2 linked regions of the Homo sapiens genome follow. The protein of the gene in region 1 interacts with the protein of each later gene in a pairwise test. Each region holds a gene or a part of one and is shown on either strand. Other genes may lie near its edges.

Region 1 (3,600 bases):
CTTGAATTTGGGTGATGGCTGACAGCTGAGTGGAAATGGACCATGAAATGGTCATCCAAGCAGCCCTGGATCTGGGGAGCTTTGGGGTTGGAGTTAGAACTTTTAAAATGCATTAATGTTAGGTAAGCAACATAGGATGGTATCTGGAACTTAACAGGAGTCCATAATTGCTGTCAGAATTATTAGCATAGAATTCGGTTTTAAACATTGACTAAATTGAATGGGCGAGGTGGGGGAGGCATGGCGCCAGTTAAATAGCCAGGAGAGGCTGGACTGGGGACAGAAAAGTGTGCTTGACTGCACAAGAAATCAGAGATAATGGTACGGACAAGCCTAAGCCCATGTAACTGGTATCCGAAGAATTACTGCTAAGGTTAAGTAAGAATAAGTGCGTAAGAGAAAGAGGACACTTTCCATTGGTAGAGTGAGAAAAATGAAAGGAAGGTAGTTGGAAATGATCTCTTCCCCCTCCTAACCCCTATGACAGAACACCCAGTCATCAGATTAAAGCGAGCACCAGAGCAGGGGAAAACAAAGCGTGCTCAACTCCAGGGGCTGCACCGCGCTCTAAAGAAAAGACCAGATCCTCTTCCTTCCTTCTTTCCTTCCTTCCACACCTTGCAAGGGTCCTCTGTCCCGCACTGCGAGTAAATCATACACTTTGGAAGTTTAGCATTAGAGAGCCCAGCAGGGGAGAAAATTGTCTGCAAGTTAAAAAAAAAAAAAAAAAAAAAGTAGAACTAGGGCAGTCCGAGGAGATTGAAAGGGCAAAACTATCAAGCAAGAAAACTGTAAGTTCTGATTAGTTTTATGACTTTGCCTTCATGCCTCAGGAGCTCAACTGATCACGGCTTTCACGACAGGCTAAGGTGGGTGTTGGAGGGGCAGCTTGAAAATACCCTCAAAACTCTCCTCCAGCTCCGTGCTTTCAGATGCAAATGCCTCACGGAGAGATGGATGGGCTGCAGCCCCTCCTACTTTCACCCCTCTTCTTTATTTTCCTGCGAAGGAATCCATCTGTACAGATCCGCCAGGCGGGAGGTGGAGGAGGGTGCGCGAGGGTGCGCGCGTGTGTGTGTGCGCGCGTGGCGGCCGAGCGGCTCCGTCTTCGCGTTCTTTTCCAGTAGCCCCCACCGGGTCTCTGGGAGGCGCCGAAGTCTCAGTGGCTCCCTGGGCCGGCCTCCGACAGCGCTGACAGCAGGCGCCCGCCGCCCACCATCGTCGCCCTCTTCCCCTCCCTCTTCGGCCCCGGCTCCGGCGCGCTCTCTCCTCCTCTCCTGCGCGCCCTCTCGCCCTCTCTCTGGCCGCGCGCTCCCGCTGGCTCCGGACCCTGCGTCTCAGCTGCCCGGGCGAGCCGGAGGGGCCCCTCGCAGTGAGCAGACGCAGCGGGCCCCCGGCGCCCGAGGCCGGGGCAGGGTCCCCGCGCACCGCGGAGTGGGCTGTGATTGGAGGAGGAGCCCGTGCCGGGCGGGCCCGAGCGGGTGTCGAGCCGGTTCCTCCAGTCTGCCCCGCGCGCGGAGCTGCGCGCACTGGGTCCCCAAGAGCCCGCGGGCGTCCGGCAGCCGAGCGCACGTTCTTTCGGATGCACACGCCCGGGTCCCTGGCGTCTGACGCCGTGGGGAGGGCAGCGAGGCCCCAGGTGAGTGTGTCTGCCTGCGCGGGGCTGGGGAGGCGCCGCTGGGCAGATGTGCGCCCTTGCTGTGCGCCTTTGGAAGCAGGACTAATCAGTGAGCGGAGAGCGGGCGGGGATGTCCGTGTGGAGTTTCCCTTGGCGTCCCCAAGTTACTGCGTGTTGCAGTGAGATGTGGCTCTGCAAGGCAGGACAGGCTTGTGGACGGAGGCGGGGGCGTTTGGCCCGGAAAGCCGGTGTTGACAGACACCAGGTGCGACACGAGGAGTAGTAGTTGAGGGTAAGAGCAAATCCCGGCACTCTCCAGGTGCAGCGGCAAACATGGGCAGGCTGGAGCACTCTCCTCAAAGAGGACCACAAGCAGGCTCCTCCCTCAACCTCGGACTGATGGGGGCACAACTCCGCGCCGGCTGTGCCGCCGGGTTCTGCAGAGGTCTGAGGCTGGAAGGGGGTATGCGCCGCTTTGGGCAGGAGTCCTTTGAACCATTCGCTCTGGACACCTTTTACCTTTCGTGAAGGTGGAGCTCACTTCAGGGTGCTTTGCTTTTTTCCCCTGTAATTAGTATTCTGCTGATCTGGTTCATCTGCATCCTGCGTCCCCTCCGCCTGGCAGTACCTTAAGTGTGCGCTGGGAAAAGGGCGCCCTGCTTCTCTGAATGCATGGTGGACTTCTTCATGGGTGCACATGGTACACTGCTACTTGCCGGTATTCAACCTTCCAGTGTGGATTAATGAGAAAAGACCCGTTATTCTGTACCGCTTCACGTTTTAGATCGTTAACCCTACGGATTTCTTAAATGTCATAGTTCAGGTGAGTAAAGATTGGCAATGAGTTCACCCAGCACTGGGCAAATGGCAAACTATTGAGAAACCATCAAGGATTGGGTGTATCAAGGCTTTGGAGATCTGCAAATTGAACGAGGAATGTACTTATAACATCTTTTGCTTTGCAATAAATATCTTGTCTCTATTAGATCGTTTATTAAGTGAGACCTTTACGTAAGACTTGTCCTCATAATTTCTGTAGCTACTAGACAGGTGTTCAGATCATTTTTCATAGAGAAGTAGATAAACATAACTTTATACAAAAAATAAGAGAAAAATGTAAGTGACTTGTTAATATATGGCCCTTGCCAAGTGACAAGTATGTATTTTTAAAAGCAGATAACACCTCACACAAAAAATGTGTATTTTAAGAGTTTAAGAGCAGTAGCAGTCTTTTTTTCTAAAGGAAAGTTTGCATAGACACAATATCTAAATAGTTTTAAGAGAGTCTTTATAAAGGCAAATTGTTATGGGAGAAAAGAGCTAAGAAAAAAAATTAATTACATTTGAAGCGTTCAGTAACTCACCAAGAATTACTTCTTTCCTAAAGAACTAGTTAGACTTTGGTTTACCTAGGATATTTTCTTGTTCTATATGTCAAGGGGAAATGCATGAAGAATCCTTTTCTTTATTTTTAAGGCTATTTTGAACAGTATGAATTAAAATGCAAAAGAATTGAGACAGGTAGGAAGACTGGCAACTTTGTGGAAGTCTTGCTTCTGTGTTAGTGTTTAATATGGAGTGGGATAGCAGAGCAATTAGGTAACATCCAACGTCAATAGTCTTATCTGGGAAAGCTAGCCGAGTCTGTCTGAGGAAAGAAAAATAAAGAAAACAATAATCAGTAGCACAGACCATCACCCTGCTAAAAGCTATTAAGGTTTGCAGCTTTAATAAAAGGGCATTGTGCACTTACAACGTGAGATATTATTGTAATTAAGGGCTGCAAGAGGTCATTAGAATTGTGTTAATCACTTTACAGACTCACAAGTCTTCTTAAGTCTACTTTTATTGATTTAATAGCACAGAGCTTTTTCCTTTCTTATAAAAGGATAATTGTAAAGCATCTATATTACTGCAATTTACCCTTGAATTGACTCTAGTGTTTAGTGTCCAATGAAGAAGAGAGGGTGGAGAGCACGCGG
Region 2 (4,112 bases), on another chromosome or scaffold:
GCGCGGTGGCTCACGCCTGTAATCCCAGCACTTTGGGAGGCTGAGGCGGGCGGATCACAAGGTCAGGAGGTGGAGGCCATCCTGGCTAACACGGTGAAACCCTGTCTCTACTAAAAATACAAAAAATTATCCGGGCGCGTGGTGGAGGGCGCCTGTAGTCCTAGCTATTTGGGAGGGTGAGGCAGGAGAATGGTGTGAACCCAGGAGGCGGAGATTGCAGTGAGCCGAGATCACGCCACTGCACTCCAGCCTGGGGGACAGAGCGAGACTCCGCCTCAAAAAAAAAAAAAAAAAGGCTTTCACTATTTCTTCTACCGCTATCTACTACGAACTTCAAAGAGGAACCAGGAGTACGGGAGGAAAATGCAAGAGGACAAGGAGCGTGACCATTGAAGCACAGCACAGCAGGATGACTGCGGGCAGGCCTAGATAATACCCAGCCTCCCACAAGAAGCTGGTGGAGCAGAGTGTTCCCTGACTCCTCCAAGAAAAGGAGATTCCCTTTCGTGGTCTGCTGAGTAACGGGTGCCTTCCCAGACACTGGCGTTCCCGCTTGACCAAGGAGCCCTCAAGAGGCCCTTATGCCGGTGTGACAGAAGGCTCACCTCTTGCCTTCTAGGTCACTTCTCACAATGTCCCTTCAGTACCTGACCCTATACCCACCGGTTGTTTCCTGGTTATATTAGTTATACAACAAAGAATAAAAGTAATAGCTAATGATTAATAATGTTTACACTAATGATTGATACTGTCCATGATCATCTCTATATCTAATTTGTATGATAACTATTCTTATTCTAACTATTTTCTTTATTATACTGAAACAGTTTGTGCCTTCAGTCTCTTGCCTCGGCACCTGGGTAATCCTTCCCCACAGACTGACCCTCCCATTCAAGATACATCAATGTCAAAGACTCAGGAGTTTGACTTGATTCCCAGAAGTTTAACCATCATCTCCCCAGGCTCGGGACTCCCAGCACCCAGACCCTTCTGCTCACACCCAGCAGTCCAGGCCCCCAGACCCTCCTCCCTCAGACTTAGGAGTCCAGGCTCCCGGCCCCTCCTTCCTCAGACCCAGGAGTCCAAGCCCCCTGCCCCTCCTTCCTCAGACCCAGGAGTCCAGGACCCCAGCCCCTCCTTCCTCACACCCACGAGTCCAGATCCCTAGCCCCTACTCCCTCAGACCCAGGAGTCCAGACCAAAGCTCCCTCCTCCCTCAGACCCAGGAGCCCAAGTTCCCCAGCCCCTCCTCCCTCAGATCCAGGAGTACAGGCCCAGACCCTCCTCCCTCAGACCCAGGAGTCCAGGCCCCCCACCCCTCCTCCCTCAGACCCAGGAGTCCAGAGCCCCAGCCCTCCTCCCTCAGACACAGAAGGCCTACCCTTGCACCCTTAGGGGCTCCAGGAAATTAGCCAACCTGTCTTCCCTCTGGGTGCCCACTCCAGGGCCTGGCTTGGCTGCCAACTCCAGTCAGGGACTTTCAGCCACCCCTCCCCCCAGGTTATTTCAGGAGCACCTGCCTGGGCCTGGGATGGCTTCTCTGGTGAAAGAAACACCAGGATTGCATCAGGGAGGAGGAGGCTGGGATGTCCAGGGTCTGAGCATCTGAGCAGGGACAGATGAGGTTGAGGTTGGCCCACGGCCAGGTGAGAGGCTTCCAAGGCAGGATACTTGTGTCTCAGATGCGGTCGCTTCTTTCATACAGCAATTGCCGCCTTGCTGAGGATCAAGGAACCTCAGTGTCAGATCACGCCCTCCCCCCAAACTTAGAAATTCAGATGGGGCGCAGAAATTTCTCTTGTTCTGCGTGATCTGCATAGATGGTCCAAGAGGTGGTTTTTCCAGGAGCCCAGCACCCCTCCTCCCTCCGACTCAGGTGCTTGAGACCCCAGATCCTTCTCTCTGAGACTCAGGAATGTGGGCCCCCAGCCCCTTTCACCTGGGTCCCAGCTAACCCGATCCTCCCCTCCCTCATCCCCTAGACCCAGGAGTCTGGCCCTCCATTGAAAGGACCCCAGGTTACATCATCCATTCAGGCTGCCCTTGCCACGATGGAATTCTGTAGCTCCTGCCAAATGGGTCAAATATCATGGTTCAGGCGCAGGGAGGGTGATTGGGCGGGCCTGTCTGGGTATAAATTCTGGAGCTTCTGCATCTATCCCAAAAAACAAGGGTGTTCTGTCAGCTGAGGATCCAGCCGAAAGAGGAGCCAGGCACTCAGGCCACCTGAGTCTACTCACCTGGACAACTGGAATCTGGCACCAATTCTAAACCACTCAGCTTCTCCGAGCTCACACCCCGGAGATCACCTGAGGACCCGAGCCATTGATGGACTCGGACGAGACCGGGTTCGAGCACTCAGGACTGTGGGTTTCTGTGCTGGCTGGTCTTCTGCTGGGAGCCTGCCAGGCACACCCCATCCCTGACTCCAGTCCTCTCCTGCAATTCGGGGGCCAAGTCCGGCAGCGGTACCTCTACACAGATGATGCCCAGCAGACAGAAGCCCACCTGGAGATCAGGGAGGATGGGACGGTGGGGGGCGCTGCTGACCAGAGCCCCGAAAGTGAGTGTGGGCCAGAGCCTGGGTCTGAGGGAGGAGGGGCTGTGGGTCTGGATTCCTGGGTCTGAGGGAGGAGGGGCTGGGGGCCTTGGCCCCTGGGTCTGAGGGAGGAGGGGCTGGGGATCTGGACTCCTGGGTCTGAGGGAGGAGGGGCTGGGGATCTGGGCCCCTGGGTCTGAGGGAGGAGGGGCTGGGTCTGGACCCCTGGGTCTGAGGGAGGAGGGGCTGGGGGTCTGGACTCTTGGGTTTGAAGGAGGAAGGGCTGGGGTCCTGGACTCTTGGGTCTGAGTTGGGAGGGGGCTTTGGCTTGGGCTTCTCCTGGGTCTGAGGGAGGAGGTAGGCTGTGGGCTTGGACTCCCAGGGCTGGGACAGAGCCGGATGGTGGGACAGAGTCGGGTGGTGGGACAGTCCCGGGTGGGAGAGGTCCTCGAACCACCTTATCGCTTTCACCCCTTAGGTCTCCTGCAGCTGAAAGCCTTGAAGCCGGGAGTTATTCAAATCTTGGGAGTCAAGACATCCAGGTTCCTGTGCCAGCGGCCAGATGGGGCCCTGTATGGATCGGTGAGTTTCCAGGACCCTCCTCACCACCCACCATGCTCCTCCTATATGTCGCCCTCACAGCCTGGGGTGCCTTGTCTTGCTCATCCCCCCCGGAGCCAGACTTGATTCTATTTGCTCTGCACGCCCCCAGCTGCAACATTTGGAGGTTGAAGTTGTCATCAGTGTTTGCAAGATGAGGAAACTGAGGCCCAGGCCGGGGCGCCAGTGACCTCAATCATGTGATGTGTGGATGCTGGAGCGGCCTGAGGCTCAGGTTATTGGGAGTCTCGTGATTCAGTAACCCCTGCTCCTGCCCACACGGCCCCTGTGTGCACGGCTCATGCTGGGCACAGGGACACTCGGGGAAGCCATGGCCAGTAAAGTGACCAGGACCTTGAGTGCTAGGGAGACACCCCGCCTGGCCTGAGAGAGCACTGATGGCTCCGAGGGCTGGAATGTTCTCTGTGAAGTCTGAACTGGGAGGCAGGTCCCTGCAGGAGAGCCCTGGGGTAAAAAACAAAACCTGCCTTGCTGTTTTGTTTCCTAGAGGAGGGGCTGGGGGCCTGGACTCCTGGGTCTGAGGGAGGAGGGGCTGGGGGCCTGGACCCCTGGGTCTGAGGGAGGAGGGGCTGGGGCCTGGAACCCCGGGTCTGAGGGAGGAGAGGCTGGGGCCTGGAACCCCGGGTCTGAGGGAGGAGAGGCTGGGGCCTGGAACCCCGGGTCTGAGGGAGGAGGCGCTGGGGGCCTGGACTCCTGGGTCGGATGGAGGAGAAACTAGGGTCTGGACCCCTGGGTCTGAGGGAGGAGGCGCTGGGGGCCTGGACCCCTGGGTCTGAGGGAGGCAGGGCTGGGGCCTGGATCCTGGGTCTTACATCAGGAAAACAGAGGAACCCTGTCTCTGATCCTGTTTTTGTCCCCTAGCTCCACTTTGACCCTGAGGCCTGCAGCTTCCGGGAGCTGCTTCTTGAGGACGGATACAATGTTTACCAGTCCGAAGCCCACGGCCTCCCGC

What was found.
Region 2: the proteins of CDH7 (region 1) and FGF21 interact in a two-hybrid assay, tested with the Homo sapiens proteins (one large-scale study listed by BioGRID and IntAct).

The regions. Positions count from the first base shown.
Region 1 is NC_000018.10:65,749,512-65,753,111, forward strand, and holds the start of CDH7 (cadherin-7 isoform 1 preproprotein), read left to right. Parts: upstream 1-1,500; 5' UTR 1,501-1,639; exon of another isoform or gene 1,640-2,441; intron 2,442-3,600. UniProt on the Homo sapiens protein: Cadherins are calcium-dependent cell adhesion proteins. They preferentially interact with themselves in a homophilic manner in connecting cells; cadherins may thus contribute to the sorting of heterogeneous cell types.
Region 2 is NC_000019.10:48,753,909-48,758,020, forward strand, and holds the start of FGF21 (fibroblast growth factor 21 precursor), read left to right. Parts: upstream 1-1,615; 5' UTR 1,616-1,876; intron 1,877-1,982; 5' UTR 1,983-2,328; coding exon 2,329-2,563; intron 2,564-3,017; coding exon 3,018-3,121; intron 3,122-4,021; coding exon 4,022-4,112. UniProt on the Homo sapiens protein: Stimulates glucose uptake in differentiated adipocytes via the induction of glucose transporter SLC2A1/GLUT1 expression (but not SLC2A4/GLUT4 expression). Activity requires the presence of KLB. Regulates systemic glucose homeostasis and insulin sensitivity.